4 linked regions of the Homo sapiens genome follow. The protein of the gene in region 3 purifies or fractionates together with the protein of the main gene of each other region. This does not show direct contact. Each region holds a gene or a part of one and is shown on either strand. Other genes may lie near its edges. The genes, in order: CBX3, YAF2, E2F6 and L3MBTL2.

Evidence for each region.
Region 1: the proteins of E2F6 (region 3) and CBX3 purify together in Homo sapiens (affinity purification with mass spectrometry; 4 studies listed by BioGRID and IntAct, with this or other methods). This does not show direct contact.
Region 2: the proteins of E2F6 (region 3) and YAF2 purify together in Homo sapiens (affinity purification with mass spectrometry; 5 studies listed by BioGRID and IntAct, with this or other methods). This does not show direct contact.
Region 4: the proteins of E2F6 (region 3) and L3MBTL2 purify together in Homo sapiens (affinity purification with mass spectrometry; 7 studies listed by BioGRID and IntAct, with this or other methods). This does not show direct contact.

What each region holds. Positions count from the first base shown.
Region 1 is NC_000007.14:26,196,988-26,204,744, forward strand, and holds the start of CBX3 (chromobox protein homolog 3), read left to right. Parts: upstream 1-4,757; 5' UTR 4,758-4,839; exon of another isoform or gene 4,840-5,622; intron 5,623-5,983; 5' UTR 5,984-6,011; coding exon 6,012-6,035; intron 6,036-7,757. Other genes in the region: HNRNPA2B1 (heterogeneous nuclear ribonucleoproteins A2/B1), read right to left, coding at 1-30, 328-474, 635-745, 844-879, 3,585-3,590.
Region 2 is NC_000012.12:42,235,229-42,242,393, reverse strand, and holds the start of YAF2 (YY1-associated factor 2), read left to right. Parts: upstream 1-4,145; 5' UTR 4,146-4,213; coding exon 4,214-4,239; intron 4,240-4,658; exon of another isoform or gene 4,659-4,669; coding exon 4,670-4,795; intron 4,796-4,823; exon of another isoform or gene 4,824-4,961; coding exon of another isoform or gene 4,962-4,978; intron 4,979-6,396; coding exon of another isoform or gene 6,397-6,598; exon of another isoform or gene 6,599-7,165. UniProt on the Homo sapiens protein: Binds to MYC and inhibits MYC-mediated transactivation. Also binds to MYCN and enhances MYCN-dependent transcriptional activation. Increases calpain 2-mediated proteolysis of YY1 in vitro.
Region 3 is NC_000002.12:11,463,147-11,470,971, reverse strand, and holds the start of E2F6 (transcription factor E2F6), read left to right. Parts: upstream 1-4,810; 5' UTR 4,811-5,092; coding exon 5,093-5,200; intron 5,201-7,825. UniProt on the Homo sapiens protein: Inhibitor of E2F-dependent transcription. Binds DNA cooperatively with DP proteins through the E2 recognition site, 5'-TTTC[CG]CGC-3'. Has a preference for the 5'-TTTCCCGC-3' E2F recognition site.
Region 4 is NC_000022.11:41,222,298-41,229,322, forward strand, and holds part of L3MBTL2 (lethal(3)malignant brain tumor-like protein 2), read left to right. Parts: intron 1-1,722; coding exon 1,723-1,954; intron 1,955-2,427; coding exon 2,428-2,504; intron 2,505-2,669; coding exon 2,670-2,774; intron 2,775-3,496; coding exon 3,497-3,644; intron 3,645-4,364; coding exon 4,365-4,447; intron 4,448-4,791; coding exon 4,792-5,026; intron 5,027-5,221; coding exon of another isoform or gene 5,222-5,277; intron 5,278-5,506; coding exon 5,507-5,572; intron 5,573-7,025. UniProt on the Homo sapiens protein: Putative Polycomb group (PcG) protein. PcG proteins maintain the transcriptionally repressive state of genes, probably via a modification of chromatin, rendering it heritably changed in its expressibility.

The sequences.
Region 1 (7,757 bases), on a different chromosome or scaffold from region 3:
AGTTACATGAGCCCCTGGTTTTCCAGATTCCTAAAATAGTGGTGGGGTAAAAGTCATCCAAACAGAAAAAAACACAAGCATAATTCAAAGCACCCAACCGTAGTACCATACTTCGCTTGTATCCACCTTAAAACTACCAGATATAAAATAGCTTTTAGGGACCTAGCTTTTGAAAAATAAGCTAGCTTAAGAAAATGGTCCAGAAACCCAACACACCTTTAATAAGAGAAAAAATCTTGAGTTAAAACTAAATTCAGAAATAGTTTCTGATTTTCAGCAGGGCAGCGTTCTTCATGTTAATGCACAAGACAGTCATTGTTTGCTTACCTCTCTTGCTACAGCACGTTTTGGCTCAACTACTCTCCCATCAATTGAATGAGGTCTTGCAGCCATGGCAGCATCAACCTCAGCCATGGATGAAAAAGTTACAAAACCAAATCCTCTTGATCTTTTGCTTGCAGGATCCCTCATTACCTTTCAAACCAAAGGGTAAACTTTAGCATTTAATCTCATTATAGCTTATAAGTGAAGTCATAATAGAATTTTTTACTATGCTGATAGTTATTTCCTCCATGATTCACTTAACATACAGCTAAAAGACTAATATCCAGTAACAATTCAGTAATTTACATACCACACAGTCTGTAAGCTTTCCCCATTGTTCGTAGTAGTTCCTCAAACTTTCTTCTGTGGTTTCAAAGCTTAAGCCACCAATAAAGAGCTTACGGAACTGTTCCTTTTCTCTCTGCAAAGGAAAATACCATTTCAATTTTTATTTACATTTTCCTCTTTGTATGCAGGAAATTAAATTCTTAAATATGAGGTGACCTGCTGGCAGAGTACCTTTTTCCTCTCCAAAGGAACAGTTTCTAAAGTTTTCTGGGGGGAAAAAAAAAACTTACATCAAATTTAAACCATATGTTAAACTGCATATTAGTTGTGTTACACCAAAAAATTGCCTCAGCTGATCTACACAAGTTTCAAAGTCATTAATGCTTGATATAAATTTACTCAACATTAAATTATCTTAAATTATTAATTAAAAAAAAAACTTTCTAAGGAAAAATAAACAAATGTAGACCGTGATTATCAAAGGATTATTAAAGAATCTTTACCAAAAATTTCAACCCTACAACCTAAAAACGCAAATTTCTATTTTTAAACATCAGAAAATAACTCTTGGTTCATTACTTATGACCCAAAGTTTTTATTTCACTATTCAATATCTGAAAAGTATCATTTATTTTCCCTTAACTGCCCCCTCTGGTGGTGATTCTAAGTATCTCAGCCAAAAAAACACAACTTTTTACAACAAACACTAAGTTTCTCCATATGACTCTCAGTTACGAAAATATTTAAAGATATGCATTAGAAATAACCTTAAAAATTACTCTTATAACCAGGACAAATTAATTTTTATGACCAGCAGCACTCGAAGCTTAAAAAGTTTAATTTTTGGTGGACATGTCTATATTTGATATATGACAATACAGAATATGAATTACTCAGCTTAACCATATGTACAATAAAATACATTCACGTGGCATAATCTCTAAGATAACAATTACTGAAAGCTGAAGCTTACTTGATTGGCCATGTGGCAAGCGACAGGCACAAAACAATTTTCCAAGTCAATAGGAAAAACCTCAGAGCTGAAATCTTTATATGCTGTACTACACAGCTGTATTCTGGGCACTTATGAATGTTAAGGAAACCTGTCTTAAAAGTTAACTAGGTTAAAAAACCTCAAACGAGAGAAAGTGATATCCAGGACCAACTGCTACAAACGCATAATGCAAACTAAAAAGTCACACGTAATTTTCAATCAATTATTTTTTGTTCCTAGCAAGCAGCATTAATTGCTGCTCTCATCCCAGTTCTACGGAGCTCTCCCTCCATTCGCATGCTCCCAACTCCTAAAAAGTAGTGGTAAAACCCAGTTCAGATTTTTTTCCTGTAGTTTTCATGACTCGTAAAAATTAAAGAAAAAATTAACTGAAATGATCAAACTAGCTCCTATGAGACACAAAGCAGTCTTTTGAAATGGTTACTTGTCACGATAGTTATTTTCATTTTTTCAGCTAGTTTTTATTCTTAATTGTCGTCAGCACATAGGTTATCTCTAAACTGAAATTACGGATAATGTACATTTATAACAAGTTTTACAAATCACTAACAAAAAGCAAAAACTCATTACTTACCTCACAATTTATCCAAACTTACCCGATGTCCACTATCGATTTTAAACAATGTTATTTTATAAACGTGCTTAGGGTCAAAGAAAATAACCAGGTAGACCCCCTTCGCTTGAGACCTTATGCTTATCAATGTAATGTTCAACCAAGATTGCAAACAAAATGAGAAAAGTAACAAAGTTCAAATACAGAGCGGCCCAGGCCCAAAACAGTTTTGCACATCAATCCATACGCATTACAGGAAGGAGCCTCTGAAGCCATGTTTTAATCGAAGTATAACTAAGGACAAAATCGTTATTTCACTTTCCTCGTAATCATCTATAAAGGTCCATGGATCTGTCCCGTAAGGGTTAAACTTCTCAGTAACAACATTACTTAAAATGAGTCAGCTCTACAACTTAAACGGAATCCTTAAGAACAGTAAAGGATTCTGACGCGAATATCCCTCCCCCGCCCAGAAAACCACCTTCGTCCCTGCCCCTCGTGGCCGATGGCTTCCAATTTATGTTTATTTTGCCGCGGTTCATCTGTCGTTTTACTGACTGCAGACCCAGATAAAACCGTTACTCAAAGGAAAAAAAAGACAGGAAAAACATAAAATGGTTTCTTTGTCCTACGGCTCGCATTGAACCCGGCCCGACGCCCTGGGTGGTGATATCTTCTCTGAAACCGGGCCCGCAAACCCGGAGCACCCCCCCTCCCCGCTCTTCGGTGTGGCTTCCGAACGCAATGGCGCCATTTCATCGAGGGGAAGGCTGAGCGCCTTTAATGAGGTGCGCAGGACTCTAAAGATCCAAGCTCACAAAACACTCCAAATCCACCTCGAAACGATATGAAAACAGCCCGAGAAGAAAAAAAAATAGTTAACCACTTCTACTTCTTGATAGAGAAAGCACACTAAGAAAATAAAAGAGTTATAAGGAAAACGCTGAGAGGAAGGCGAGCCATGAAAATGGCGGCCGCCAAATCCGGTTCCCGGGAGAGAGGGGGAGGGGAAGCTCCGCAGCCTCGCTCACGAGGACCTGCTGCCCGCCGAAACGCTCGCCGAGGAGACGCCGTGGCCCCCGAAGCAGCGTGCTTTAGAAAGGGAATAAGAATTCCCGCCTCCGCGCCCCACTTTCACCCCAGCGGGGCAGCGTCCGCCATGTGAAAGCTCCCCATCCCCCACCCCCAGTGAAGGGAAATGGCGCCGGGAGGCTGAGGGTGGGGAAGCTGTTTGTACGCTCAGGCCTCCGCTCAAGACCCCGTTCATAAACCTTAAGCCCCACTGCTACTGAATTGGTCCGATTTCCTGCCTCTCTCCCACGGAGGCGGCTGGCCGACTTCCACTGAGGCGCCAACGGCCTCGCCATGCCCTTTTCAATAACTCATTGATTTCAAACCCGTTACCTCCATCGCGGACTCAGTCGCTTCAGCCCGATTTCCCGCAGCCGAGCGAGATGAGAGAGATCTCCGCGGACGAACACGAACCGGACTCGTCCTGGCGCTGTAGTGAGAACTGCCGCTGCTCGAGAAACAACTCTGCGAGGAGCACCTCCGCACGGGACCCGGCGCTGCTGCTACTGCCGCTAGAGCCGCTGCCGCCGCTTTTCTAGAACCTTCCCCCCCACTAACGCGTCTTCCGCTACGTCAGGCCGTCGCGTAAACGCCCTATCCGCCGCCAATGGCGGGAAGGCTCTACGCCCCACCTTACGCCAAATGCGTACTCCTCCCACCCTTGCGGCCAGAGACAGTACCCGACGTTACTTCCGTAAATGCGCTCAATGAATTGCGGAAGGCTAGAGTCCTGCTAGTTACTACCTCTTGGAATAGGGTCCCGCCCCCTGCCTTGGCGCAAGGCAGGTGAGAAACGGTCGCGCAGTTTGAAATTAACGCCGACGGGAGGGGCTTAATCCGCAGCCTGGAGATCCAGCCCCCTCAACCCGGGAGGTGGTCCCTGCAGTTACGCCAATGATAACCCCCGCCAGAAAAATCTTAGTAGCCTTCCCTTTTTGTTTTCCGTGCCCCAACTCGGCGGATTGACTCGGCCCCTTCCGGAAACACCCGAATCAACTTCTAGTCAAATTATTGTTCACGCCGCAATGACCCACCCCTGGCCCGCGTCTGTGGAACTGACCCCTGGTGTACAGGAGAGTTCGCTGCTGAAAGTGGTCCCAAAGGGGTACTAGTTTTTAAGCTCCCAACTCCCCCTCCCCCAGCGTCTGGAGGATTCCACACCCTCGCACCGCAGGGGCGAGGAAGTGGGCGGAGTCCGGTTTTGGCGCCAGCCGCTGAGGCTGCCAAGCAGAAAAGCCACCGCTGAGGAGACTCCGGTCACTGTCCTCGCCCCGCCTCCCCCTTCCCTCCCCTTGGGGACCACCGGGCGCCACGCCGCGAACGGTAAGTGCCGCGGTCGTCGGCGCCTCCGCCCTCCCCCTAGGGCCCCAATTCCCAGCGGGCGCGGCGCGCGGCCCCTCCCCCCGCCGGGCGCGCGCCCGCTGCCCCGCCCTTCGTGGCCGCCCGGCGTGGGCGGTGCCACCCCTCCCCCCGGCGGCCCCGCGCGCAGCTCCCGGCTCCCTCCCCCTTCGGATGTGGCTTGAGCTGTAGGCGCGGAGGGCCGGAGACGCTGCAGACCCGCGACCCGGAGCAGCTCGGAGGCGGTGAAGTCGGTGGCTTTCCTTCTCTCTAGCTCTCGCTCGCTGGTGGTGCTTCAGATGCCACACGCGTCCCGGGGGCCCGGTTCTCCGCTCCCCTCCCCTCCCCTTCTCGCCGGACCCCGCGCCGGGAGCTGCGGGAAGGAGTGGAGGGTCGGGCGGTGGCCTCGCGGCTGGCCTGGCGCGCGGCCAGCGCCGGTAGTTAGTGGGGGGACTGCTCTGCCCTCGAGGGGGTAGGGAGCTGTGGCGACGGTTGCCCCATTTCGAGACAAAGCGCATTTCCCCCTCCCCTCCCCCACCCGCGTTCCGGCGGAGGCGCCCCCTCCCCCAGCCGCCACGCGGGGCTGGGTCGAGACTTGGGCCTCCCGGAGGGCGGCGCGTGGTCCCGCGTCCGCGAGGCCTGGCGGCGCGCGGCCGGCTGTCCCGAGGCTGCGGCGACCGCCCAGTTAACGTGGCCGCCGCGGGGGTAGGCGCGTGCGGTGTGGCGCAGTGCCCTTGAGCCCCCGTGCCGCGGCCTTTGTTTCTCCCCGCGGATGCGCTGACCACGAGGCCCGCGCTCCCGGGTGGGGGCGGGCACCCGCGCTTAGGCCTCTGGACGCCGGGCTTCAGCGGCGGGGGTCGGGAGCGGGTGTTTGCAAGAGGTGATTCTTTTTTCAAAGTGTCACGAAACGGGGTTGAAGCATCTTAAGTTTTTTCCTTTTGTTATTTAATTACCGATTGGAAAGAGGGAGGGTTTCTGAGCAGAAACCAAGTTGGGATTGCAGAACAGAGAAGATTCACAGTGCTTTACCGTTGTGAGTTGTTTGGGTAATCGTGCCTGGTTTTAAACCGAAAGGATTGTCCTTTAAAAATGGAACATGGACTTTATTATAAATGGGACTTAGATTGGAAAAGACATTGGTCCCCTATTTTAAGCCATGTGAAGCTGTTTTAGGTACCAGGATCCCCAGTAAAGTCTTTCTAGACTCACATGGTTAGGACACGTACTTAAGTACATCATAAGCAATGTAGGTAGGAGCGCAGATCTACTCTGGATTTGTATTCACGTTTGAAATGTGCGCTCTCTACTTGGGGGTTGGAATCCAAACAGAATTTGTATTTAGTTACCTTTTTTGTGTCATGCAAACTTACCTTAACTGTCATGCATTTTTCTAGTAATAGCTCTTCAAGTCTGCAATAAAAAATGGCCTCCAACAAAACTACATTGGTAAGTTAATGAAAACCTAAAATATGTAAGGATTTAACTCAAGTTTTTTTTCCCCACAGTATAACTTTGCATCTCTGTGGCTGAGAAATTTACATCCACATATTTCCCAGCTCTCCCAGTGTAAATTACAGGGGAAAATTAAGAGAAAAACGAATTCATTACAGGGAGATACTGGCTTGGCTTAATAGTGTCTTAACTAGTTCAAAGAAGGCTAATCTTTGAAGGACAGTGCAATGTGGATTTTGCTGAGGATTTTTATCTTCAAATAGAAATACACACATTTTTGCAGCGTTGAAAAATGTTACATAAAATGGTAAAGCCCTTGTTGGTTGGCATAATTTTTCTTAAATCCCCAGAATTCTGGAGAAGTATTTTCATTAAAGCCCAATTTAAAGAACAAGGTACCTTGTGCACCTAGGTTGGAGCAAAAGTCATTGAATCTTTCAAATTACTTTGGTCACTTTATCTTGTTTTAACTTACTCTAAAACATAGAAGAATATTAAGTTTAATTCATTGCAGTGTTTTGTTTTTTAAACAAAATGATCGAAATCGCAAATATGAGCCAGAAGGGAGAAAAGGCTAGATTTTTTTTTTATCTTATTCAGCCATGTCATGTTACAAGTTTTTTTAAACCCTGGAATATTCACATAAAAATCATGAAATTCAAAGTTACAGTTTTCACAATATTTAACATTGCATTAATCTTAAACACGTAAAGGTGAATGTTAATGTCTCCTAGGTAAAATAAAGCATTTGTTTTTGGCTTGTATGTGCTCTCTCTGGGTTTCACACTAAAAAGGGCACGTTAGTGATTTTTAATTTGTGCCATCATTAGATTCTGCATTAAGTCTGTTTACCCTGCATTAGATTCTGCATTAGATTCTGTTTACCCTGGAAAACAGAAGTTGTTTTTGCACGCAATTGATAGCCTTTGGGGTCTGTTATTGTATTTAGTTTATTTTGTGAAGGATCACAGGTTGGCCACTTTAAAAGTTCTTAACTTTCCATTTTAAAAATTCATTAGTGTTGTGAGATATGTGTGCTGTTAATTTCACTTAAATAATGGGAAATTTATTTTGACTCATCCACTTTTGGAAAAAAGTGCTGGGTTAAGGCAAATATATACTATAAAAGAAAATAGTGAGCATTTGAAACTAGCTTATGAATGCCATAGTAGTGAATGAATACTGTATGGCATTTTGTCTGCCTTTTTTTTTTTGTAAACCTTAGTGTGTATCCTTTTCATTTTCTGTATTTATTGTTGACTTTATTTTGTTAGCCTTCTCCCTTTGTGGCAGTAGCTGTTTTGTTTTTCATGTAGTATAGGTATCTGATACACTTCTGTCTATTACAGTTTGTCTTTGCTCCTCCCACCATTATTCCTACCTTCTTGTACTGTACAGTGGCAGAAAGCTGTTTGGGCCCAGTACTCAAGTATCTTGACTAATGAGAATCATAACACCTGACTTAGAAATGGTATCCAAAAACGTCAGGTGTTTGCTGCATGTTTTTGTATTTCAGGGGATTTTTATTTTGTGTGTGTGTATGTGTTACCTATATGCTTGCATAGCTTGAAATGCCCTTTTGCAGTCTTGAGGCCTTTCTTACATATCTGTCTGCACACTTCATATGCCTGCATAGCTTGAAATGTCCTTCTGTAGCCTTGAGGTGTTCTTAACTTTTTTCTGCTTGCTGCTTTACTTGTGGGATGGCTTTAATGA
Region 2 (7,165 bases), on a different chromosome or scaffold from region 3:
CTCCTTAGGCAACCTGGTGGCCCCTCACTCTTGGGAAGTCACCATATTGATGGCGAACTTAGTGCAGACACTCGAATAGTATAGCACACTACAGCCCACAGCTCCTGGGTTCAAGTGATCCTTCCTGCCTCAGCTCTCAGCTTCCTCAGTAACTGGGGAAAGTAAAGATTGCTTTACTTTTTTTTTTTTTTTTTTTTTTTTTTTGTGAGACAGAGCCTCATTCTGTCACCCAGGATAGAGTGCAGTGGTGTGATCTTGGCTCACTGCAACCTCTGCTTCCTGGATTCAAGTGATCCTCCCACCTCAGCCTCCCAAGTAGCTGGGACTACAGGTGCATGCCACCACACCCGGCTAATTTTTGTATTTTTTGTAGAGACAGGGTTTCCCCATATGGCCCAGGCTATTGTTGAACTCCTGAGCTCAAGATATCTGCCCACCTCGGCCTCCCAAAGTATTGGGATTACAGGCATGAGCCACTGGTCTGCCCTCATTTACCTTTTAAACATTAAGGTAAGGCCAGGCACAGTGGCTCATGCCTGGAATCCCAACACTTCAGGAGGCTGAGGCAGGAGAATCGCTGGAGCCCAGGAGTTCAAGGCTTTAGTGACCTATGATCACACCACTGTACTACAGCCCAGGCACTAGAGTGAGACTCTCTCACACACACACACAAAAACAAAAAAACAAACAAACACACAAAAAAACAAACAAACAACAAAAAAAGTAAATCATCAGAAAACTTCAACACTTGTTAAATTGTTAAAACGATCGTTAGTGTTTGTCACTTTACAAGTGACCGTAATGAATTAACATTTCTAAAGTACTGAACTCTGTTACTGTATTGAAAAGACACCTGATTGGGTAAGAACCTGGGCCACTTTAGTAATAAAAAGATCTGTTTTCTCCACAACAGCCACTCTTACAGCTAGTAAACACTTTAGGAAAGGTGTGACTTTTTGTGGTGAAATGGGAGGAGTACCTCCTGTACTACTGTCTCCACGTAAGCCTAGTAGGGGCAGAGATTTTTTTTTAAGAGAAACACCCATAAATGGGAGGCAGTTGGTATAGTGCAAGGGCATATGATTCTGTGCTCCACAAAAACTAGGTTCCTGGTTCATCGACAAGGATGTGTGGAGTTGTAAAGTTCATTTTGAAGGATAAATGTTAATTCTGGCATTTATTGACCATCCACTGCATGCAATATGCCTAACAGTTTGTAAATCCCAATATGAAAGAAAAAAATCTCATTCAACAATTGTAACACAAGTGAATGTATTGATTATTTAGTTTAGAAACAGGGTCTTGGCTTTGTTGCTCAGGCTGGTCTGGAACTCCGGGGCCCAAGTTATCTTCCTGCCTCAGCCTCCCAAGTAGCTGGGAATACAGGCGCGCGCTAACCTGACTATAAGTGGATGTATTTATTCTCAGAATATTTATTGAGTGCCCACTATGTGTCACACTGTTCTAGGGGCTGGAGATGCAGCAATAAAGGCAACAAAAGTTATTGTGCTTTTTGTTCATGATTCAGAGGTGCGGCTTACTTTTTAGTGAGGGAGGTTACAATCTAGTGAAATGGTGATTTGCAGCATGGGGGATTTTTAGAGTGCTTGATTTAGTTTCCTTTTTATTTAAAAATACATTGTTGCCATCACTTTTGCAAGTAGAGCAGTTCTTGTCAGTCTATTTGAGGATCCATCCAGTTGAGGCATTTAAAAACATCACAATGCCTTAGACTTGCAAGGGACCTTAGTTGTGATAATAGTTTTAACTCCTTTATTTTACATATGAAAAAAACTTAGCTGAGTTTACCCACTGCATTACTGAGAGGTTAAAGACTAGGCCTTAAATCTGGTTCTCTTGTATACGTGCCTCAATCATACTCCTCATGGTTCCTGGTTTCCGAATTTGGGTCTGAATCATGAGAAGCTACATTTGCAAAAAGTACAGATGGTACAACGAGTTTAGAGACTGCTATGTAAATGGAGTGATTTGGTTAATCAGAAAGAAGATGCGGTGAAAGACCAATAGGATACCTGAGCTCTAACCCTGGCCTGCTCATCAAAGAAAAACCATTTAACCTGGGCCCTAATTGCCTTGTCTTTAAAAAGAAGGGCTAGACTACGGATTTACAATGGCTCGACTTACGATTTTTCTACTTTACGATGGATTTATCGGTGTACCAAATGCATTTTCAATTTACAATATTTTCTATTTAAGGTGGATTTATCGGGAAGTATCCCCTTTCTAAATCGAAGAGCATCTGCAGTCGATGAGGCCATGTGCATAGTACTTTGAGTCCTTTAAAATATGCATCTATGCGCAGGGATTTACAAAGTGCCTGGCACATAGTGCTCAAAAAAATGTTATTTATTTATTTACTTAGAGGCGGAGTCTCGCTCTGTCGCCCAAGCTCGAGTGCAGTGGCACGATCTCGGCTCACAGCAACCTCTCACTCTCGGATTCCAGCGATTCTCCTACCTCAGCCTCCCGAGTAGCTGAGATTACAGGCGCCCGCCACCACAGCTGGCTAATTTTTGTATTTTTTAATAGAGATGGGGTTTCGCCACGTTGGCCAGGCTGGTCTTGTGAACTCCTGACCTCAGGTGATCCGCCCGCCTCGGCCTCCCAAAGTGCTGGGATTACATGCGTGAGCGACCGCAACCGGCCAAAAAATGTTATTATTAATCGCACAACAATCTCATATAGATGCAATTCAGAATATGAAAACGTTGAGAATTACAGAAATTAAGCAATACTTCCAAGGTCTATCAGCTAAGAAACAGGAGAAGCAGGCTGAGAATCCTGGGCTTCTGACTGTATTATTTCCTATGTAGTTTAGCTATAAAATTATTTTACATGAATTCGGACTTGATGTAAACCTAGAAAGATGGACAGAAACAGCACAGTTAAAGAGGGATATACTTTATGCAGAAGTAACCCATGTGCATGAAGGAAGGGTTCTGGTAAGGGAATGAATTTCATCTGCACTCTTTGTCAGGAGGCAGCTTTCCTTATGGGAGAGGGAGGCAGAGGTAGGGAAAATGTGTGAAGCCTTTGAATGCCAGGCTAAGGAGTGTGGGCAAGTCGTTAGTGGTTCTTTATCAGAGTGGTGGCATAGTATTAACAGCATTTTATTATTAATCTGGTTGTGGATTACTGAATACATTGGGGAGGTAGAAGTGGAGCTTCGGAGACCAGTTAGATGGCTGTTGCTGGAGTCTGGAGTATGAGGACCTTTAGTATGTTGACGTAGAGACCTGGGAAGGTGTTCTTTTGTTAGCAGACAGCGTTGAGGGGACATGCAAACTCCTTATATTTAAAAAGGACTTATGAGTATATAGGGGTTTCTTTCAAAAGCAGCTACTGCAGAGGCCTGAGAGGCCAAAAGGGCGCGTTTGGAATTAAAACAGAGTTAGACTCTTGGCTTTGTCATTTTCTAATTATATAGCCTAGAGGAAGTCACCTAATCTCTCTTGAGTCTTGATTTCAATTCCTCTAAGTTAGGGTTGACAATCCCTACTTGTTAGAGCATCTGTGTGCATAAACCAGACAGTGCTTTAAGGCATGTAGCAATGGCGCTGCGTGTTGGTTCCCGCCTTCCCCCCGGTATACTGCAGGCGGGGGCTGGGTAGCTAAGGACAGCGGAGGCCAGGAAAGTCGTTCTACCTGGAGATCCCGGGCTGGCACTTCTGTCCAGACCTGGACAGGCCTCCGAACGCCGGCCGGCCCTACCTTGGACCAGGCTTCGCACGGGATGACGGAGCATCCCCTGCCAGTCGGTGGGACAGACGTTTTCCTCCTCAGAGGGGCTCTGGAGCGCGAGGCAGTCCCCGGCAGCCGGGGGTACCAAGGGGGCAACGGGGGAACAGCGCGGAGAGGCGGCGCCGGCGCCCGAGGCAGCCGCGGCCACCGCGGCCACCCCCGCACCGCCCGCCGGCTAACTCGCCGCGGGTGCTGGGCCGCGCTGGCCGCGTTTGAAGTCTCCGGCGCGGCTGCTGGTTGGCCGGCGAGGGTCACGTGCGCCCAGGCAGGAGTTTCCCCGACAGCTGGAGGCTGCGTGGGATCCGGCGGCGGCTCCCGAGCGCGGCGGTGCGGCCTTCCCCGCCCCCTCCCTCCCTCCTCCCCCGCCCGCTTCCGCCCGGCTTATTATCCTCCTTATTGACAAACAGAGCGGTCGCGGCGGCGACTCTCGGCGTGCGGTGATAGCCAAGCCATGGGAGACAAGAAGAGCCCCACCAGGTAACAGCGCCCGGGCCCCGGGGCCCGGACTGTGCGGGCGGCAGGGCCCTCGTGCAGGGCTTCGGGTGGCCGCCTCGCTAGCCGCCCGGGCACCGGGGCGAGCACGGGGGCAGCGCCGCTGGTGTGCGAGTGCTGCCGCTTGAGGGGGCCGGCGCCGGCCGCCCCACAATGGAGCCGCGATGGCGGCGGCGACCGGAGCGGCCGCCCGGGTGTCAGAGCGGCTGTGGCGGCGGCGACTGCGGCCGCGCTCGCGCCCTGCCTCTTCCTGACTCCCTTCCCCCTCAGCCGGAGCGCGGCGCGCCGAGGGCCCGCGGGGCGGGGGTCGCAGAATTGGGGCGGGGGGCGGGGCGGGGGCGGCCGCGGGGCCCGGGCACCGGGCGCGGCCTGCTGGTGACCCCGCGCCGCGTCGTGTCCGGGTTGTGTCCTGCAGGCCGAAGCGGCAGCCGAAGCCGTCCTCGGATGAGGGTTACTGGGACTGTAGCGTCTGCACCTTCCGGAACAGCGCCGAGGCCTTCAAGTGCATGATGTGCGATGTGCGGAAGGGCACCTCCACCCGGTGAGTCCCGGGCCTGCCCCTCGCGCCGCCGGCCGGCGGGGTGGCGACCAGAGGACGCCCTTGCGGCTGCCGCCCCCTCCCATGACACTGGCGGACCCGGCGGGAGGAGGCAGACGGAGGTGGCTGTGGCGATAGGAACTGGGTCACATTGATCGCAACCCAGGCGATGGTTTGCGGTGAGGGGTAATTGAAGAGGCTGTAACGTTTTTTGCTGCCAAGAGAGAATAAATTATTTAAGGGAGGCATTAGCTACTGCGATTTAATTCGTATCGCTGGGTGTAATGCCCCTCTCCCCATTCTGGGTATAAAAATGTTGGCTGCATTGTTGTGTTAGTGTGTGGGGATCAAGGAAAACCCATAAAATCTCTTTAGGAGCAAAGGATGTAATTTAATTTCGTTCCTAAAGAAAGAAAAGTATCTGATTGCAGAATACACAATATATTAAAACTTATTTTTCTACATGTACTTCTGGAAGGGTCAGATCAAGGTTTTATTTAGTGTTTTTATTCCAGTACTCTAATATTTTATAAATAAGTAGTTGGAGATGAGCCCAGTCACAGGAACAGATTTTTACTGAAAGTACCTTTATATCTTTAGTTTGATTAAATGGCAGTCTCTTAGACAAATGAGATGAAAAGATCTCTGCCTATTTTCAGACTTTATTTATTGTAAGCTTGCAGTATAATAACTCTGTCTTTTAAAAAATGACTTTGAATTAAGTGAATAAAGAAAATCATCCAGGAAATTCAGTCAGTGGCATTCTTAATCTGTCAGCACTTAGTTATCGAGCTCCTTGATTCTTATACGAAGGTACCCTTTGAATTAAATATAATCCTGTGATTTATTACTTAATATTTAGAGAAGATATGTATTTTGATATTACAAAGTCCATTAGAAACTAAACTATAACAATAAGCATACTAATCTTACTGTTGCTTTAAAAAAGAAGGCACATGTAATATTGACATATACAAATATTCAGTAGACGTTAGATTTCTAAAAAATGAGATCTTGATTTTTTAAAAAACACTTTACAGAATTTTATTAAGTTTAAAATTTAGAGACAGGAATGGTTGACAGTAACTTATCTGAAAAATTTCTCAGTGAAGCTCGCTGGTTTTGACATGCTTGTTTTTTGTAAATCATCATATGCTTTTTGTATATTCCCACAATTGATAAAATATTTCGTACATTTTTCATATTCAAAAAGCAAACTTTCAAACGTATGCTAAATTTAAGGGATTACAACAGAACATTCCAAAAAGAAAAAAAGTATTTGCTAAAATGATTGTGGTTACTATTTTTGGACCCGTGATTTGTGATTTAAGTATTTTGAAAAGCAGAGTATCTTCTTGGCTGTGTAAGGTTGGAGTTGGTTTAGAGTATATTTGTGTATCTGTGTTAGTACTTTGTGCTTTTTAAAATGCTCAATAAGCAATTTTTAGAAAATTCGTTTTTTGGAGGCAGGAACATTAAAGTGGAAACAATTATAATCTTGATCTCTGGTACTATATATTATTGCTTTTTGTTGTTCCCTCTCTATTTTCTTGTAGCCATTAGAAAAATACTGAAACTAGAAGAGCCTATATGTTTATTTGCAGGGACAGCAAGGAAGGGGGGAAGCTGGTGTCCTACTCCACAGCCAGTCTTGGGGTTAGAGGAACCCTGAGAAATAGAGTAGGTGGTGGCAGCTCAGAAGAGAAGAAACAGGCTGAATACCTGGCACCTGGAAGAAGAAGGAATATAGTACACAGGGGAGTTGGCCCAGGACAGAGAAGTGGGCCTAGTTTAAAAGAGGCTTGAGGCCCACATGGGGGCCCCTGACATTTTTTTTTTTTACCAGTACATCTAAGCTCTTGTAGATCCAATTTTTAGTGGTGGAAACATTACTTGAGGAGGACTCAGAGAAGCATTGTCATTTGGATTGAAACTGAAGAGGCTCTGGGCAACTCACCAGAAATCTAAGGGACACTGTGTTCCTGAAAGTAAGTGTTCTACACCACGACCCTCTCAGCTTCTTCCTTCCTCTCTCTGAATTCTCTTCTCTTTTGATTTTGGCTCTAAGTTAAACCTAAGAGCTCTAATTTCTCTGTTATCTGTTATTTTCCTAGTGGTTTCTGAAATTCAGGGTAGAATCTGTGTTTGTATAGAACAGTGTGGAACAGGGTATTGTTACTAGAGAAGATATTGATTGCATCACAGAATATTAATATTTTTCCTCTCTGGTAATGTTAAAAAAACAAGATTAAAGGACTGCAGAACGGTGTTGAGAAGCAAAAGTTTCAGTAGTTGGAAGAAATAATTCTCCATAATTGACTTATTAATGAACAGGGTAATTTCCAGAGTAAGGTTGGCAAGTACTAAAGCCAA
Region 3 (7,825 bases):
TCTTAGTCTGTTCAGGCTACTATAACAGAACACTGTGAACTGAGTGGGCTTATAAACAACAGAAACTCACAGTTCTGGAGGCTGGGAAGTCTAAAATCAAGGCACTGGCAGATTCAGTGTCCAGTGAAGGTCCACTTTGCTTCCTGGTTCATAGATAATGTGATGGTTAATATTGAGCATCAACTTAATTGGATGCAATTAATTTAAATAGCCACAAAGTATGCAAAGTATTGTTCCTGGTGTGTGTCTGTGAGGGTGCTGCCAAAGGAGATTAACATTTGAGTCAGTGGACTGGGAAAGGCAGACCCACTCTCAATCTGGGTGGGCACCAGCTAACCAGCTGCCAGTGTGGCCAGAATAAAATGCAGGCAGGAGAACATGGAAAGACTAGACTGGCTGAGTGTTCTGGCCTCCATCTTTCTCCCATGCTGGATGCTTCCTGTCCTTGAACATCAGACTCCAAGTTCTCCAGCTTTGGGACTCTTGGATCTTCAACCACAGACTGAAGGCTGTACTGTTGGCTTCCCTACTTTTGAGGTTTTGGGACTTGGACTGGCTTCCTTGCTCCTTAGCTTGCAAACGGCCTATTGTGGGACTTCACCTTGTGATTGTGTGAGTCAACACTCTTTAGTAAACTTCCCCTCATATATAAATCTATCCTATTAGTTCTGTCCCTCTAGAAAACCCTGACTAATACAGATGGTCATCATAAACCAAAAAGTATCTGAGACGGGTCTCAATCAATTTAGAGGTTTATTTTGCCAAGGTTAAGGACAATGCCTAAGAGACAGGTCTATACCTTTCTCTGAAGATGATTTTGAGGGCTTCAATATTTAAAGGGGAAAGGGCAGATATTGGGGAAGGGGGAAGAAATTTTTAAAAGGTGTTGATAGATAAGAGCTAAGTGGTTGCATTCTTTTGAGACTTTGATCAGCCGTTCACACAGAAGAGGCGGGTAGAGGAATAGTCACTTATGCATTCACCTAGCTCAGTGAATCTGCACTTTTACATAAGACAAAATAAACATGGCAGAGGAGGCCATCAGCTATGCATTTGTCTCAGGTGAGCAGAGGGATGACTGAGTTCTGTCCTTTGTCTATGTCCTGTCCATACCTATGAAGATAAGCTGTCAATCTACATTGTCCGGGTGAAATTCAACAGAACTATTTTAGGGTAAAGATCTTGGGGCCCACAGGGAATTTCCTGTGGGGAAAATGTGGAGGAAGCATGTAGCTTTTTAACGTTGTAGCTATCTTATTTAGGAACAGAATGGGAGGCAGGTTTGCATGATGCGGTTCTCAGCTTGGCTCTTCCCTTTGGCTTAGGCACTAATCCCACTCCTGGGCAATCTTTCCTCACGACCTAATCACCTCCCAAAGGCCCCATGTCCGAATATGATCACATTGGAGATTAGGTTTCAACATGTGAATTTTGAGGGAACACAAACCTTCTGACCATAGCAACTGGACTCAATGATATCTACAATTTTAGTTTCTTTGCCTGGGCTATCCAATATGGTAGCAACTACTTATGTGGCTATTTAAATTACAAATTATATTAAATTAAATTAAATTGAAATTCACTTCCTCAGACACACCAGCCTTATTTCAGGTGCCAGTGGCCACATGGGGCAGTGGCCACCATATGGAACAATGTGGAACATTTCCATCATCACAGAAAGCCCTAGTGGATATGGTCATTTCCTCACGGACCTCTGGAGAGGACATTTTCAAGTAGAAGGGAAGTAAAATATCTTCTGACAGATGAGGGCTTTCAGGATTGCTCAAGCACACCTGTGCAGTTGGCCTAATATTTCAGCCCTAACTTTAAAAATGATCCCTGGGAAGTATAGTCTTCAGCCCTAACTTGAAAGTCCCAAAGCCCATGCCCCATTCTGCCCTAGCACCATTTTGCCCCAGGAAGCATACACAAAAACAGGGCTGGAACTGGGAAATACCAGAATTTCTGTGCTCAGAACTGTGACTGTATATCAATGTAAGGCCATGGTGGACAAAGCCAAGGATGTAGTGGCCAAAGTCCTGGTATTTGAGTACCCAACCTGGAACAAACTTCTCTGAGCCTCTGTACCCTCATATATATATATATATATATATATTTTTTTTTTTTTTTTTTTTTTGAGACAGGGTCTTGCTGTGTCACCCAGGCTGGAGTGCAGTGGCATGATCTTAGCTCACTGCAACCTCTACCTCCCAAGTTCAAGCGATTCTCTTGCCTCAGCCTCCTTAGTAGCTGGGATTACAGTCGCCTGCCACCACGCCCGGCTAATTTTTGTATTTATAGAAGAGACAGGGTTGCGCCATGATGGTCAGGCTGGTCTCAAACTCCTGACCTCAATCAAGTGAGCCTCCTGCCTCAGCCTCCCAAAGTGCTGAGATTATAGGTGTGAGCCACCATGCCCGGCCTTCTATAAAGTATTCTTGAAATAGCTGCCTCACAGGCAGATGTGGAAAAGCACCTGTAGTTTACAACTAATTCAGTTATTATTTTTTCTTCCTCTGCTGTGCTGCTATTGTGTGTTAGACACACTCTAATTTAGTACTTATGCTTTCTGCTTATGTATCTCCCCCAGGCTAGTAGCCCCTGGAACACAAGGTAAGGCCCCATCAGATTCAGTTCTTCCCTCAACACCTACCCTACTGCTTGGCCCATGAGAGATGCTTCAAAAAAAAAAATGTGCAAAAGATTATGTCTTGGGGAAAAGCCAGGTCACAGGCACAATAAGTGTGAGGATTGTGCCATTTCCCCGACTCTCCCCAGCTCTGTGCTCATGCTCTTTCTTTAGCCTGGACCACTTGCTACTCCGTCCTGATCCACACCCCACCTTTACTTGCCCAACCCCAACTCTGGTTGTAGAGAATCTAGTCGTCCTTGAAGAATCTTCCTAAAGATCTGAATGCCAAATTAATTAATCAGTTGTGGAGTCAAAGCCTGCCTCTACCACTGCCTACTAGGACCTTGAGTAAATTTTTGTAATCCTGCTGATCTTAATTTTGCTGATCTGCAAATTGGGCAGAAAAATACCTATCTTTCAGTTTTGATATGAGATTTACATAAGCAAATGCATGTGGAATGCCAAACACATAGCAGATGCTGAATAAATGCCTTCAAATGGCCATTTCTAACGGCTCTGGGAAATTCTCCATTCTGCAACAATATGCAGTCTTCTCGAGACCTCCGCTACGTTCTCTTTTTTTCTCATCGTTTATTTAGCAAACATTAATAGAGCATGTTTTATTTGCCAGACACTTTGCTAGATGATAGAGATACAAAGATTAGAAGCCAGGCATGGGTGTCTCACGCCTATAACTCCAGCACCTTGGGAGGCTGAGGCAGGAGGATTGCTTAAGGTAAGGAGTTCAAAAAATAAAATAAAATAAAACATAAAAAAAAATTAGCCAGGCATGGTGGCATGCACCTGTACTCTCAGCTACTTGGGAGTCTTAGCTGGGAGATCACTTGAGGCCAGGAGTTTGACGCTACAGTGAATTATGACCGTGACACTGCCCTCCAGCCTGGGTGACAGAAAAAAAAAAAAAAAGATTAGAGAAGGCCTCTGACCTCACAGTCTAGTGGGGAACCAGCTTCTTCGGGGATTTTTCCCTGCCTCACCTCGCCCACCTCAGGCTGTGTAGAAACCCCCAGTCTAACCAGTTGTTTCCCTCCAACTCTGTACATACCACGGTGTGTTGCCTTTTTATTTCAAACATGTGCTGGCCTCTGTTCTAATCACAGCAACCTGTATCCATTAATCCATTTAATCCTCACAACAACCTTATCAGGTAAGTATTGTCATTATTTGCATTTTCCAAATAAGGAAACTGAGGCACAGACAGATTAAGTAACTGGCTTAATAAGGTCTTCTAGTTTATACGTAGAGGCAGCCAGGACTTGAAAACACACCTTCTGGCTCCAGCTAAATTAACATGCTCTGTTTACTTATCTGTCCCCACTGAAATTGGAGGTTGAACCCGTGGCATATTCAAACGAATAAGTATCGCCTGTGCCCACCCCAATATCTGACACTATAGGTCAACGATAACTCATTCGTCAAACAGGAAGGAGGAAGGAAGGAAGGAAGGAAGGAAGGAAGGAAGGCAGGCAGGCAGGCAGGCGGGCAGGCAGAGGTAAAACGATTCCACAATGGTGTGGTTGCTCACATTTACTAAGCATCAACACTGACCTGCCTGTAAGATGCGCTAACAGAGCTCACGAATAAATGAAGGCTGGGTGTGGTAGCTCACGCCTATAATCCCAGCACTTGAGAGGCCAAGGTGGGAGGACGGCTTGAGCCCCAGAGTTCAGGACCAGCCGGGGCAATATACTGAGACCCTGTCTCTACTAAAATTAAAATTAAAAATTAGCCAGGCACAGTGGCGCGCGCATGTAGTCCCAGCTACTTGGGAGGCTGAGGTGGAGGATCGCTTGAGCCCGGGAATTCAAGGCTGCAGTGAGCCCTGACCACGCCACTGCACTCCAGCCTGGGCGACCAAAAAAAAAATTAAAATAAAAAAAAGGAATAAATGAACATCTCTGCGGCTCAGAACTTTCAGTTATCACCTCAGAACTTTCAGTTATCACCGTCGAGAATTCCAGGCGACCGCTGGGTTTTCCCGGTTGCCTCTTTTCTCTCACCCCTGTTCCCTTCCTCTGGAATTCGGCTCCACCTCTTCCTTTTCCTTTGCCAGCCTCTCCGTGGATTCCGCGGTCCGGGTTTCCCGGGCGGCAGCCGCCGGGAGAGGATCGGTGCGTGGGAGCGCTCCGGCAGCGGCGGGCATGCGCAGAGGGGGGCGGTGTACTGCGCATGCGGGAAGATGGCGGGCCGGGCGACTTGAGATCCGCGGGTCTCCCTCCTCTTTTTCCGTCTGCGTCGGGAGCTCCCGGGCACGTGAGGCCGTGCCGCGTTTACTGGCGGGCGGGACGGCCTAGCCGGGCGGCGCCTCGGAGGAAGCCGCGGACCCCTTAGGTGCTGGGCCCTTGGAAATCGGCGCGTGGGGGGCGGTGCTCGAGCTGAGCGCGAGAGGGCGGGAGAGCTCGTGGGGTGCGAGGGGAGCAGGACGCCCGGCCGGGCAGCATGAGTCAGCAGCGGCCGGCGAGGAAGTTACCCAGTCTCCTCCTGGACCCGACGGAGGAGACGGTTCGCCGTCGGTGCCGAGACCCCATCAACGTGGAGGGCCTGCTGGTAAGCTCCGGGACGGGACGGGGACGGGCGGTGGTCTCCCAAATCCGGCCCCCTCCTCCCCGCGCCGCCGCCAACCCCGCTGGCCGTCGTCTGGGTCGTCTGCTCCCCCTGGGCCAGGCGCTGCCCATCACGTGCTGCGAACTGCGCTCTCCCGCCTTCTGCTTTCAGCATCTGCTCACAGACGTGGTATCAGTCTTCTAGGCTTTTACATCGGAACTTCAGAGCACTGTTGGAGAAAATTGCTCAACTTTGCATTAGAGAGTCCATGTTTATCTCCTTCTATGGACTCTAGCTGTATCTCTGCAACCTATCATTTGTTTTTCTGCCTCCTCTCCCATCCTTCTGCTCTACTGCAGCCGTTTAAAACCTTGTCCACGCTTTATATTTCCCACGCCACAGCTCCCATTCATCAAATTATCTCCCCACCTGTTTGACAGAGAAAATGGTTAGGAAATTTGGCTCCCTTTCCTGCAAAGGCTGATTTCTTCTCTTGTTCAGGACCAGATGCTGTATTCCCCGCGGTTATCAGGGCCCTCAACAAATGCATTTTCTTTTTCTTTTCTTTCTTTTTTTTCTTTTTTTTTTTTTTTTTTGAGATTGAGTTTTACTTTTGTTCCCCAGGCTGGAGTGCAATGGCGCAATCTCAGCTCACTGCAACCCCCACCTCCCAGGTTCAAGAGATTCTCCTGCTTCAGCCTCCCATGTAGCTGGGATCACAGGCATGCGCCACCACACCCAGCTAATTTTGTATTTTTAGTAGAGACGGGATTTCGCCGTGTTGGCCAGGCTGGTCTCGAACTCCTGACGACCTCAGGTGATCCACCGAGCCCGACCTCTCCCCGTATTTTCAATTTCTCTGCTGCTTTCTTTCTATAACTAGTAGTAATTAAACATTTTCCCAAGTCATTATGCCTGGTTCCCCTACCAAATAGTTTGTGATTATTGCCTCATTTAATTTCTCATTTCTCACAGCAGTGTTTTATAATACTAAAAGATTATTATTCTTGTTTCACGGTTGCCAAAACAGACTTGGAGATGCATGTAACGCCGGCTTGCCTGTGGCTGGATAATAAGTGTAGAAACTTGGGTTGAAGCTCCAAATGTCTAACTCCAGATGATAAATTCTTGACTACTAAAACCGCATTCTAAATCCATCCCCATCTTAAAAGATCTCTCCCTTGATTCCATATCCCCTCCCATCTACTGTCTCTCTTCCTCTTCACAGCTAAACTTTTTTTTTTTTTTTTTTTTTTTGGTGACGAAGTCTTGCTCTGTCACCCAGGCTGGAGTGCAGTGGCCTGATCTCGGTTCACTGCAAGCTCCGCCTCCCGAGTTCACGCCATTTTCCTGCCTCAGCCTCCTGAGTAGCTGGGACTACAGGCACCCGCCACCACGCACGGCTAATTTTTTTTTGTATTTTTAGTAGAGATGGGGTTTCACCGTGTAAGCCAGGATGGTCTCAATCTCCTGACCTCGTGATCCACCCGCCTCAGCCTCCCAAAGTGCTTTCACAGCTAAACTTCTTGAAAAGGTTATTTACACTCACTGTTTCCACTTGATGGCCTCTTATTACCAGCCAACCCACTGCTGGGGACCCCTATCCTAAGCACACTTGTAAGACCATTCTAACCAAGGTCACCGACAAGCTCGTCAATTCCAGCAGCTGTTGTAGTTTTGACTACAACACTCGTGTTAGAAACCCTCCCTTGAGCTTCCTTGACGTTTGATGCTCCATCTGCTTCTCTGGCTTCTCCTTGTCCTCATCCTCTTCCCATTCCTTCATGTTGATTTGTTTTTCTGTTTTTGTTTTTGTCCCCCCCCCCGGTGCAGGATCTCACTCTGTCACCCTGGCTGGAGTGCAGTGGCACATCATGGCTCACTGCAGCCTTACCTCCCAGGCTCAAGTGATCCTTCTGCCTCCAACTCCCAAGTAGCTGAGACCACAGGCACATGCCACCACACCTGGCTAATTATTTTTATTTTTAGAGATGGGAGTCTTCCTATGGGGCCCAGGCTGGTCTTGAACTCCTGGGCTCAAGCAGTCCTCTCACCTCAGCTCCCCAAAGTGCTGGGATTACAGGCGTGAGCCTCTGCAGCTGGCCACATGTTGGTATTATTCAGGGTTCTCTTCTACCGTCTCTACACATTCTTCTTAGGGGAGTTCATTCACTCCTCCCATGACTTCTGTTACCATCTACATTTGATCATTGAACGACTCAGGGATTGGGGCACCAAATCCCATGAAATTCAAAATCTGAATATAACTTTGATTCCCCCAAAACTTTACTGTTTGCTGGAAGCCTTACTGATACCGTAAACAGTTAATTGACACATATTTTGTATTTATATGTATTAGTTACTGTTTTCTTATAGTAAAGTAGCTAAAGAAAAGAAAATGTTATTAAGAAAATCATAAATAAGAGAAAATCCTACTCCTTCGGGGGAATTAGGTCATCGTAAAGGTCTTCATCCTTGTCTTCACACTAAGTGGGCTGATGAACAAGAGTAAGAGGAGGAGCTGGTTTTGCTCTCTAAGGGGTGGCAGCGGGTAAAGAAAATTGGTCTCTAAGTGGACCCACACAATTCAAACCTGTGTTGTTTGAGGGTCAGCTGTATATTGGTACC
Region 4 (7,025 bases), on a different chromosome or scaffold from region 3:
ACACAAGTAATTGTAATATAGCCTCGGTTCTGAGCCAGGGATGTGCCTGGCACAGCACAGGGTAAAGCCCAGTCTGGGGCGCCTCTGGGCTGTCTGATTCTGTCTGGTGTAGGACTCCTGTGTGGCACAGAATCATCTTTGTGGCATTTAATTTTAAGAAATGATTTAGTAAAAATTAAAAAGTCACATATATACATGGTAAAAGTGACTCATACCTGTCTCAGTGTCTCAGCACTTTGGGAGGCCAAGGCAAGAGGATCACTTGAGGCCAGGAGTCTGAAACCAGCTTGGGCAACACTGTGAGACTTCGTCTCTTGAAAAAAAAAAAAAACATTAGCTAGGCACGGCACAGTGGCTTACTCCTGTAATCCCAGCACTTTGGGAGGCCGAGGTCAGAAGATCACCTGAGGGCAGGAGTTCCAGACTAGCCTGGCCAACATGATGAAACCCTGTCTTTACTAGAAATACAAAAATTAGCTGGGTGTGGTGGCATGCGCCTGTAATCCCAGCTAACTCAGGAGGCTGAGGTGAGAGAATCGCTTGAAACCGGGAGGCCGAAGTTGCAGTGAGCTGAGATCGTGCCACTGCACTTCAGTCTGGGCCACAGAGCGAGGAGACTCCATTTCAAAAAAAAAAACAAAAACTAACAAAAATGGCGTTGGATTGTGGGCTGCACTGTGTTGGCTGTAGATGAAGAGAACATGGCAGGGAAGGCAGCCCAGAGGGGCCCCGAGCCAGGCCTTACCCTGTGTTTTCTCTCACTCTCCTGAGTGAGCTGCTGGGATACCGGATGTGGGACAGGCAATTGGTGTCAGGACGTATCCCAAGCCCTTGAGCTGGGCCAGAGGGTCTGTCTGGTTTAGGACCCCTGTGTCAGCTTTGCCTGTTGGCTGCTTTGTGACCTCTGAGACGCTTTCCTTCCTGGTGTGTTTGGAAATAGCACTGCTTAGTCTAGTCTAGGCTGGTTCTTCCTGACCCAGCAGTGCCCTGGGGCTGGAAAAGCCCTACACCCTACCTGTTCCCTGCCCCAGGCAGGACAGCACTGAAGTCACAGTGAACAAAAAGAACCTCCTCCTCTGTACCCCAGCACCATGGCTCTCTGTAGAGCAGCTCGAGGGCATCTTGGTCACCATCCCTCATTAGGTCAGTTGCTACCAAGGCACTGTGAAAGCACTGCAGAGCTGCAGCCCATCAGGGTCAGAAAGGGACACAGGAAGACTCAGTTCTCTGGACATGAGTCTTGTATGTGCCACAGGCAGAGGGCTGGGAGGGGGCGGGGAGGGCAGGATGCCTGGGGATCAGAGTGCAGAGCCCATGAGGAGCACAGGCTGCACACCAGCTTCCAGGCCCAGCTCTGGCACAAATGAGTCTGTGTAATTCTGGGCAGGCGTGACCTCTGGGTCACTTTTCCTTAGTCTAAAGTGCGTTTTGTGATTTGCATCAACTCATTGGCGTTTTGGTGGCAAGAAGTGGCATGCCCACTGCAAGCCGTGTGCCTTCCCTCTGTGTCCTCCTAGGGAGAGCTGTTGCCTCCCTCTGTGTCCTCCTAGGGAGTCAGGGCCAAGGTGAGCCTGGCAGCGCAGGCAGTCTCATCTGCCACCTCCCGACTGACTGAGTGTGGGGGATAACACCACACCTTCCCTGTCCTCCACTCACCAGAGCAGGAGGGTGGGTGGGAAGAGCCCTGAGCCATAGCAGGCCTGTGTTCTGACGTCGTTTCAGATGGTGGAGAGCATGAAGTACCCCTTTAGGCAGGGCATGCGGCTGGAAGTGGTGGACAAGTCCCAGGTGTCACGCACTCGCATGGCTGTGGTGGACACAGTAATCGGGGGTCGCCTACGGCTCCTCTACGAGGATGGTGACAGTGACGACGACTTCTGGTGCCACATGTGGAGCCCCCTGATCCACCCAGTGGGTTGGTCACGACGTGTGGGCCACGGCATCAAGATGTCAGGTTAGCAGAGCCCCAGGCCAGAGGGACTGCATGCTGTGCTTCCCCAGGGACGGAGTGGGAGCACCTTCCTACTCGTCACAGCAGGTCAGCAGGTGGAGGTTGGCATGGCCCCCCTGCAGTGATGATACTGAGCTCCAGAGAGCTTGAGTAACTTGACAAAAGTCACTCCACTCAACTTGTGAGTGGTAAAATCAAGATTTGAACCCAGATGCTACCAGCCCCGATCCTCTCCCCTGTCAATGCGGGAGCAGTCTGGGTTTCGAGGGCTGAAGAGTCCCTACAGAGAGCTCTTGATGTTTTCTGGACTCAACCTTTCTGTCTGCTACTCTGGGGTGGGGGGTCCTGAGATACAGAGATACAGCTGAGAACACGTGCAGAGCAGCCCCACATTCCCAGGGGAGGCGTGTGGAGATGGCCCAGGAGCCGCCTCCAACTCCCTTCTCTCCCTCATTCCCTATCCATCTCCTCCAAAGAGAGGCGAAGTGACATGGCCCATCACCCCACCTTCCGGAAGATCTACTGTGATGCCGTTCCTTACCTCTTCAAGAAGGTGAGGTTCAGCTCTTGGGCGCTTTTCCCCTCAGCCATGGGTCCATTCCGGGCCTGAGGGACCTGGCTCTTCCCCTGGGACCATCCCTTTCCCTCCTGAGGCCTGCTTCCCTCACCCTTCCTCCTGGCCTGCCCAGGGAGTCCCCAGCTGTCCCATTCCTTTAAGGTACGAGCAGTCTACACAGAAGGCGGTTGGTTTGAGGAAGGGATGAAGCTGGAGGCCATTGACCCCCTGAATCTGGGCAACATCTGCGTGGCAACTGTCTGTAAGGTGAGCCAGGGGCCGGCTCTCCAGCCTCCAGATTTCTGAGCGGGGGGACCCATGTGGCCCAGAGCTCTAACCCCACTCGCCACCGTCAGGGGGTCTGTGTCCCAGCCTCTCATCACTGGCTGCACCCAGAGTCCCTGACTTTTGTGAGTGGGGCCTGGCCTGCCCCTTGCTCAGAATCTGCTTTCGTGTCAGGGTCCAAGGCTCCCTGGACGAGTGCTTATTCAACACCTGAGCCTGGTCCTGTGTCAGAGTAGGCCCCTCCCTGTCACCTCACTGGGGCCTTCTTGCTGTGTGCCATCTCCTTTGAGCGCTGGCCTAGGCAAGAGCCACAGCTGGGGTCACCTTGCTCCAAACCTCATCGCCTCCTCCTGAGCAGCACCCCCACCCCTCCTTGGCCCTCCTGGAGGAGGCTGCTGACTCGTCCTCGCCGCGGATCCGCTCCATGCCGGGCGCGTGTGCTCACCCAAGAACACGGTCCAACAGGATGGACGCGGCCCCTGCTGGCGTGGTGTTTGCTGTCTAGTGGGGAAGAGAAAGAATCCCACGCGTATGCATCACAGAAGTACTGTGTGCCCCAGAGAGGCTCAGGTGTCCTCCAGGAGGGCCATGCCCTAGATCCGTTTGGATCCATTTGCCTCGTGTCCCTATTGGGGTGCGGTACCAACCCAGGATGGGGTGCAGTTCATGATATGATCTGTCTGCCTGCTCCCCCCACCCCCCAGGTTCTCCTGGATGGATACCTGATGATCTGTGTGGACGGGGGGCCCTCCACAGATGGCTTGGACTGGTTCTGCTACCATGCCTCTTCCCACGCCATCTTCCCGGCCACCTTCTGTCAGAAGAATGACATTGAGCTCACACCGCCAAAAGGTAAGACTAGAGAGGCCACCACCTGCTGTCCTTGCCATCAGAAGGGGCAGGGTGTCCAGGCGCGGTGGCTCCCGCCTGTAATCCTAGCACTTTGGGAGGCCGAGGCAGGTGGATGACCTGAGGTCAGGAGTTTGAGACCAGCCTGGCCAACATGACAAAACCTCGTCTCTACTAAAAATACAAAAATTAGCCAGGCATGGTGACAGGTGCCTATAATCCCAGCCACTCGGGAGTCTGAGGCAGGAGAATTGCTTGAACCCAGGAGGTGGAGGTTACAGTGAGCCGAGATCATGCCATTGCACTCCAGCCTGGGCGACAGAGCAAGACTCTGTCTTCAAAACAAAACAGAAGGGGCAGGGTGTGGCCACAAGCCCAGATTCCTGGTCAAGTCAGGCCCCAGAAGTGTAGCATTTCAGGGTGTATGGGAAAGGTGACAGAGCCCACCACCAGCCCTTAACTGCTGGGCTGACCCTACCCCATGGCCAGTGTATGGTTGATGAACAGAGCTCCCACTTATCCCATTGGTCAGTGAACAACCTATACAACAGGACTGTGGTGCTAGAGCAGGTACTACCCTGAGGGGATGAGAAGAAGGCTGCTGGGGAGACTCCATGCTGGGTCCTGACCAAGCTGCAGAGCTTCTTCAGCCATGTGTCCTTTCCTCCTGCCCACTTCCTGCTTCCCCCTCTCCCTCTGCATCTGAGCTTTCTGCTCCTCCAGGTTATGAGGCACAGACTTTCAACTGGGAGAACTACTTGGAGAAGACCAAGTCGAAAGCCGCTCCATCGAGACTCTTTAACATGGTGAGGAGACTGAAGTGGAGCAAGGGGCCTGCGGTGGCCTCAGGACAGGCCCTGCCTGCTGCTGTCAGTGGTGGCAGTTCCTACTCTTTCTCTCGAATCTCTACTGCTGACATCAGCCACTTTCAGGGGGAAGTCCCCAGCTATGGCCTGGGCACTCCAGTCCCTCTTCCATGGAGGGCGGTACTGGGAGAGGTGCAGTGGGTTATTGTCTAGAGGAAGCTGCCCCAGCAGCCATTCCAGTCCCCGCCCCTCCCTGCCAGTTCTTCAAGTGCCTCCGGGCCGGGGCAAGCCTGCTGGGGTAGGGAGCTGACTGGCTTGGCCACTGCCTCCTTTTTCTGCCCCAGGATTGCCCAAACCATGGCTTCAAGGTGGGCATGAAGCTGGAGGCCGTGGACCTGATGGAGCCCCGGCTCATCTGTGTGGCCACGGTGAAACGAGTGGTGCATCGGCTCCTCAGCATCCACTTTGACGGCTGGGACAGCGAGTACGACCAGTGGGTGGACTGCGAGTCCCCAGACATCTACCCCGTCGGCTGGTGTGAGCTCACCGGCTACCAGCTCCAGCCTCCTGTGGCCGCAGGTGTGGGCTCTCGTGGCCCTAAGAGGCTCTGACTTTCTTTCCTCTTCTTTTTTCCTTCTTCCCCCGCCCCTGTGCCCATCTCCGTTCTTTGGCATGAGGTGGAGATGTCTCATGGACCACTTTAAGTAGAGAGTGAGCCCCGTCACCCAGCCCCTGCTCCTGACTTCTCTGTCTCCCTTTCCCTCTGGCCTGCAGAGCTCCTTCCTTCATCTTGCCCACTCTGTCATATGTTCGTGCCCTTGTGCACCCAGGTAAACTACCCAGGTCCCTCTGAGCAGCCCTGGTAACAAGGGTGGGAAGAAGGGACAGCTGTTCTCCGGCCCCTCCTCCAGCCCCGCCCTCTCCTCATTGCCCAGGTTTGGCTTCCTGTCTTGGGGTGTCTCGTGTGGGAGGGTGGATGGGGTCTCGGGATGCGCCTGTGCCCTGTGTCCTCCCAGGGACCCTCTTCTCATCTCTTTCACCCTTGTCTTTCAACAACAGAACCGGCCACACCGCTGAAGGCCAAAGAGGCCACAAAGAAGAAAAAGAAACAGTTTGGGAAGAAAAGTAAGTGCTGCACCGGTGCAGCCAGGCTGGTGTGGGCCTGGGAGCAGTGGGCCTGCGTCCCTGGGAGCAGGCGGGGGTCAGCCCCCAGGCACTGGTTCCCAGGTGCTGTCCTACTGACGTAGCTCTCTTCGTGTTCCTGTCCTGTCTCTTTCCCCTTGCCCTTTGGCCTACGGGCCTTTCACCCTGTCTCTGGGGACCCAGACCATAAATAGGGAGTGTTCAGTCTCTGGCCATGGTCAGGGTGCTGAGGAAAAGAGGTAAGAGATTGAGGTTGGGGGATCCCATCCCTGATGCCCCATGTTCAGAAAAAAACAGCCTGGCCTGGGCAAGCCGCAGCTGCTAGGTTCTAAAGGAAAAGCCACAGGAAGAAATAGAAGCTGTCTCTCCAAGGCTGTCATTCTTACCTCGAGACCTCTTTGAGGGTGGGAGAGGGTGGGAGCAAAGGCAGGCAGCTGAGTGGCAGGACTCCACCTGGCTCTCAGGCCGTGGGTGTCGTTTCCCTTGGTGGGGCCTCACTCTACAGATTCTGAGCCCAGCTTGGGTTCCACTTGAGGGGCAGAGCGGGAGCGGGCAAAGCCATCCTTCAGAGCCGCAGGCCTATGACAGCGAGGTGGGCTCCACAGTGTGGTACCATGTGGGGAAGAGGATGTTCTGAAACAGAAACAAGGTCCCTTGGGCAGGGTTAAGATTGAGTGAGGCGGCCAGGCGCGGTGGCTCACACCTGTAATCCCATCACTTTGGGAGGCCGAGGTGGGCGGATCATGAGGTCAGAAGTTCCAAGACCAGCCTGACCAACATGGCGAAACCCCGTCTCTACTAAAAATACAAAAATTAGCCAGGTGTGGTGGCAGGCGCCTGTAATCCCAGCTACTTGGGAGGCTGAGGCAGGAGAATCACTTGAACCTGGGGGCCGGAGGTGGCAGTGAGCCCAGATCGCTCCACTTCACTCCAGCCTGGGCGGAAGAGGGAAACTCCATCGCACAAAAAAAAAAAAAAAATTGAGTGAGGGTGTGGCATTTATCCAGCAGGCAGAGGCTCTGTACCATTCAAACGGTAGGACCGGGAATGGTGCATGTTGTGGGAAGAAATCAACAATCAAAAACGGGGGCTGAGTGTGATGGTTCACACCTGTGATCCCAGCACTTTGAGAGGCTGAGGTGGGAGGATCTCTTGAGCCCAAGAGTTTGAGACCAGCCTGGGCAACATAGCGAGACCCCTAATTTAAAAAAAATTTTTAATTAGCTGGGTATGGTGGCACAGGCCTGTAGTCCCAGCTACTCAGGAGGCTAAGGTAGGAGGATCACCTGAGCCTGGGAGGTCAAGGCTGCAGTGAACTGTGATCACCCCACTGTACTCAAACCTGGGTGACAGAGTGAGACCCTCTTCAAAAAATCTTTTTATTTAAAAAAAGATTTTAAAAAGCAGTTACAACCACGACTGCCTGGGGCTTGGT